Linked DNA regions of Homo sapiens: region 2 is linked to region 1. Evidence: fine-mapped expression QTL. A gene starts in region 1. The other region holds a variant in brackets. All regions are shown on one strand. Distances are from middle to middle.

The links.
Region 2: its variant is fine-mapped to the expression of ZNF804B in pancreas (GTEx, PIP above 0.99).

Annotation. Positions count from the first base shown.
Region 1 is chr7:88,758,256-88,761,178 of GRCh38, reverse strand. ZNF804B (zinc finger protein 804B) reads right to left here and starts at 1,479. Exons shown (of 4, transcript NM_181646.5): 1 at 1,095-1,479. The coding sequence starts at 1,202. RefSeq lists an enhancer at 789-1,333.
Region 2 is chr7:88,691,391-88,694,313 of GRCh38, reverse strand. The region is part of intron 1 of LOC107986816 (a long non-coding RNA gene); the gene reads right to left. Among named protein-coding and RNA genes, the nearest start is that of ZNF804B, 67 kb to the left of the region's middle. The variant T/C (reference allele first, on the strand shown) is at 1,048.

The DNA of each region.
Region 1 (2,923 bases):
TACATATAGCATTTATTAATAATCAAAGGCTTTTATAATATGTTGCAGTTTTGAATAATTCATGCTAAAGAAGCATTAAACCATGATGGAAAATATCAAACATAAAAAAATTAAAGTTGGGCAATTTCAGTTTTCCCTCTTGATATCATACAGACTTAAATACTGTTTTTTATATGAAACCTCAAAAGTTGGTCTTTAAGTTTGGATACTTAGTCACTAGTAGTCCAAAACTAATATATATATATATTTATTATATATATATTTATTATATATATATTTATTATATATATATATAAATTACACACACATACACATTCACACACATTTTCTTGAAACATATTTGGAGCCTTAAAACATAATAGCATGTACCAAGAAATGAATTAATAATGTATTTAACTCATATAATCTGGATGAAATTATTTTATAAAAAGAATGTGAATAAACTGAATAGTAACTAAATTGAATAGTTTACTAAGTTAAAAAGCAATCACGTTAATTGCATGTTAATATATTTGTATATTATACAATAAATTATCCAACTCAGATTTCCATAAAGAATTCTCTTACTTCCCCTTAAAGAATGTGCATAGTTGAGCATTAGATATAATCAAGTTTTCACTACCTATAACTTTCCTTTTGCCAATGATTTGAGGGAAAATCTTTGAGTTTTTCTCACAAAGTAACAGTAGCATTATTAAACTAATCTCAACTGATGACTTTACAAAAGCACATTATAACGTGCCACTCAAACTTTCTACACTGCTCAAATCAGCAGATTCGTAAGTTGACATAGCACAGAGGAGCTACCTTCTGAGCCCTGCAGTTGACTGCATTCAGTAAGTATTTACATCCGTAGCACTATAGATCCTACTGACTGAATTGAAAATACACATGTAAATACACACCCCTCTCTGTGTCACAGTCTGTCAATAAATTGTATAAACGGACACGATGTATCTCCATACCTATGGATAAGGTATACGTTTTAGATGTCCACCACCTACTCATTGTATCAGGATACTATCTCTCAATATCTTTTTGTTTGTGTTGAGTTGGAACGTTTGTGTATGTATGTGTGTGCGCGCGCACATTACCGGAGAGGGAGATCCGTTCTTGCACAGGGGTCCCCTGAAGACTCCTTTAATGCCCCGGTAGTGCCCATTGCTGAGATGTCTCGAACTGATGACCAGGTAACAAGCCATGTGGGTCCGGGCGGAGGCGCAGAGTCTCAACTCCTCACCAGGCGACCAGCCGTGGAAAGCGGGCGGGTTTCTCAGCGGCAACAGCGACTACCACCTCCCGAGAAGACGCGGCCAGCAGGACGCAGGGGGAGGCGGTGGCAGCGCGTCCCTGCTCCGCGCCCCGTGCGGGGCTCCTGCTGCCGACAGCTGCTGCTCTGACAGAGGCGGCGGCGGCGACAGCACAGAGCACGGAGGGGACCCGGCGAGCCAGTCCACATGCTGCTCTGACGAGGTGGCTGCTCAACCGCGGGCCAGCGATATATTTATTTAAGGACAACTTCCAGGGTCCACCAGGGAATCAGGAATTCCCCCGCCCCTTTCCTCCCGCCCCCTGCCTTCGCGCCTGGCGCCTGCCCGGGGGATGCTCAGGCGCGGGTACCCATCGTCCGGCCGGGGGCGTCCTGGGCTGCTGGCTGCAGTGTGAAGATCCAGCAGCAGCCGCCGCCACCGCCGCTGCTTTGTGGGGAGAGTGGCGGGGAGTCCTTGGGAGCGCCAAAGCGCTGCCCCCGCTGCAGTCGGGAGAGGGCGGAGGAGGAGACGGGCGGGCCGGGGTGAGGACAGGGAGTTGGGGACGCGGCGACCTGTGCTTGAGGAGGGCAGTTAGCGCCTCTGCTGGGAGCTGTGGGCTCGGGGCTGCCCAGGAGGCTCAGGTGTGCTGTGGGGCGAGGCCAGGAGGTGACAGCTGCCGCTGCAGCCGCGGGGGGCTCTCGGGGCTGCAGGACCCGCCTCTCCCACCTCCCGGCCTCAGCCGCCCAGCCCCCCGGTTCTTCTGCCCTATCTCTGAGCCAACTTTCTACTGTTTGGGAGTCACCTGGGAGGACTGGGGAGGCTGTGGTGGAGGAGATGGGCAGGAGGAGGGCGTTTTCTTTACTCTTTCGTTGCCTGCTGGCCTTCAGCTTTTCTTCAGCGCTCTGGCTGACGGCGGCGTTGGCAGAAGCAACAGCTCCCCAGCCGGTTGCAAGAATGAGCTGTGCAGCCACAAATAGGGCAGACAGATTAGATGCGCCGTGGTAGGGAACGCACGGACGAGGAAAGTTTTGGGCAGAAAACTTATATAAGGTATAGAAACGAGACATGCATACGTATATGTGCATATACATGCACGTACCCAGAGTTATGAAGATTCACTTACAAGCCTTTCTGTATCTTAGCGAGGCACATATTTTTGGTCTCTATAAGACCTCTGTGCTTTCAAAACCCCCAATAATCACCCCTCTCAGAAGTGGTTTTTAACGGACCTTATTTCGTTTACCGTAATTTAAGCCACCAGGGAGCGAGCTGCACTGAGAATAAAAAGACCTGGGCAGAAATGTGCTCTGAAAGGAGAAGATAGCCCTCCCAGGGTTTGGAGACACCCTGCACTCTCCTCCACCCCGCGGTTGCTTAATGCGGTTCTGCAATCCATCTCTGCCTCACCTCGCCTTGTCTGTGCCTGGGAGAAGGTAAAGGTTCACCTCCTCTCAGTCTGTTGCTTCAGCGCTGGAATTGAAAGGCTACCGCCAATGCGCTAATTCTCCCCAGTATTGTCCTCTCCTGTCTCCCACAATGCCCCATTCGCATCCCGGTTGACATTGACACAAAAGCAGAAACAGGTTAAAAGGAAAAAAAAACTGTTAATTTAATTTTTCCTATTCAGGCAACTCATAAAATTCTTAAGCAAAAAAGGAACAAAAAAGAATCTA
Region 2 (2,923 bases), 67 kb after region 1:
TCTGACTCTTAGATACTCAATATTGTTCTCTGCCCTATTCAAGCCACTTGTCCCATATACTCTGGTTATAGAAGTGTCTTTGAAGTAAAACCAGAGATGTGGGACAATATAGATGTCATTGTATTGGGCAGAGGTGGATAGTTAGCAGTATGTAAGGACATAAAATTGCTTGGGATTTTCAACTTCAGACACAGACATAGGAAAAAAATATTGAGAGGATTCCCTAAGGTATGGCAAGCTACCAAGTCAGGGAACACATAAATTGTTCCTCCTCAATGAAGTAATACCAATGCTAAATATACAAGTGGTGATAGACAGGGATATAATTGAATTTTTAAAATATATAAACAAACAGAAATGTATTCAGTTATAGGAAAAGTATCACCACCTCATAGGCTAATCAAAAATGTTTCCAGGTTAAGGGACAAAAAAATTTATAATAATTCCAAGGTCTCTTAGATATATTTTTGAAAAATGCAATAACATAATTGGCTCTAATTTTCAATAAACTGCATTTTTTTTTCCAGGGGGAAAGAACAAAGATTAGAACTTGACCAGATACTAAAAAGTGAAAAATGCCCCTAGTTGAACACAGAATTGAACCTGAAAGCGCTCTGGAAACTCAGGGAAGTCTGATTCACAATCAAATGGTTTGCAGATTAATATCTGCAAATTAATAAAGATAATGCTCCTTGTGTCTTTGTATTTTCGGGGTGTGGGATTACTGCCATCATTTGATGGAGAAGAAGTTTTAACTACTAAGTCAGCATGTTTCCATGGTGCTACCTGGTTGCAAATCTGGGATGACATAAGGCACCAGCTTTCTTTACAAACCTTCAAGCTTGGAGGAGGTACAAATCAAATTTGGTCTGAATATTGTAGTTTTGTTTTTCAAGAAGTACTATTTCTGTTTAAGAGTTTTTGTTTGTTTTATAGAGATCTCCTTGGTTAATCCTTTAGCCACACTGATTTGATGCCAAGTTATTGTTTTCCAAATAGTAAATTTTTAAACTTCTTATCTGATTAGTTTTACCTGTTGAGGACAGG[T/C]GTTTTATGCCTCATAATTTTCCCCTCCATACTCATTTATACTTGAATAATTTTCAAGATTCTTGGTGAATTTCCCTTTGAAGGTTTCAAGTCCCTTTAATCCCCAGAATAAATTTATTAATTTATTAATGTTTCCCAAATAAAGAAAAAACCCTATTGGGAATATAGTGTTAATTATTTTTCTCAAGTACATCCACCAATATTGGTGCATACATTTCTCAGGAAATTAAATTTTCCATTAGTTCAATATGCTTGGAATGTTTGAATTAAAAAGAATTTTCCAAAAATGGTCCCAGGCTTCTTTTAAATGATGTTATTAAAAATATAAAGTTCATATTCTAATAGATTACCCAAGAAGGTTACTGCATACAAATTTACCTAAGTTCTTGCTTGTTATTATCTATTTTCCTGTAGTCTTGCTTGGTTCTGGAGGGACAGTTTGGCTGAATATCAAATACTTAATTTACACTAGTTTTTCTCATTAAGCATTTTTTTATACTACTGCTTTAAAATTGGGTTATCAAAAGACCAATGCCAGTCCAATATATCTGTCATTGCAAGTTACATGTTTGTTTATTTAGGCCATGAGGTCATGAGAATTTTTCTTTTAACTCTGAAACCTAATGGTTATTAGAATATGTCTTAAAGTTTATCAGTCTGGGTTAATGATAAACTAAATTTTCTCATAAACTGTATTTTCCCAAGTACCCAGTGGGGTCTTCCCATTTTTAGGTTCAAACTTTTTATTAAATGTCTGGGAAGTTTTCTGTGATTATAATTTCAAACATTATTTTCCAATGTTTTTGTTAATAGTTATTTTCTAATGTCTAATGTCCTAAAGTTTTGCTTTTCACTCTTTGTTTTGTTCAGGGATTGCAATAATACACATATTACTCCTTCTCTTTCTATCTTTGTATCATATTCACTTCTTCACTCATTTTTATTCTCTTAATTATTTTTCTGTTTTTCTTCAATGCTCCTTATTTAATTTTTTAAAATCAATTCTCTCATGGGCGTCTTAAAATCCATTCTTCATTTCTATGTTAATTTTGTCTTTTAATTCCATTTCTTTTTTGAATTCAATCAACTTTCTTTTAATTTTTACTGGTTTTTTCCATGTCTAGCCTCAGATTTTGAATTTCTGATTTAGATTATTTTTTCAAATCTTCATTTACTTGTGAGACTATCTCATTCCATTTATAGTTTTGACTTGGAGTTTTCTTCTGCTTCATGGTTATTAGTCTGAGGGAAAATTTCCTCAGTTAATATGTGTTGAATTTTGTTTTCAGATTTCTTTCAAAAGCTCATTTTGAATCTGTTAATCTTCTCTTGTCTATTTTTTTATGTGTGGTATTACAGTGTTTTACAAGATTTTTAATTTAATGATACTCCTGTCTCACAGTATTTCAAAACTCGAAAACTTCAATGGTTTTGTTTGTTTGCTTTTATGATAGGCAATGGGATTGTGAATTATCTAGTTTTGTGTTCCCCTTTTGTCTTGCGGGATTCAAAAATGTCCTCTTTCATTTAATTCACTATCCCATTGGCCAGAGGTGCCTTCTTTATGGTTTCTTTCTCCTCCAAAGAAGCTTTGTGTTTTAAATTCTGCTTCTTTAAGTTGTGAAACTCTTAAATATCTTTTCTGTGGCTCATGCTCTGTCTTACCTGGACATTATTTTAGTATTTTTAGAAAAGAGTGGACTTAGTTTTTCTGGCAGAGATTTTAGACCTTATGCCTCATTGTTTATTTCTTTATCTCTTTTCTGTAGGTTTTCTAGGTCTGTGTTTTCTTTCCAGAAATGTCTTGCGGTGGGGTTGGAGTGGGACAACTGTGTAAAAGACCACACACTAAAACATCTTACAGCTATTAAGAATG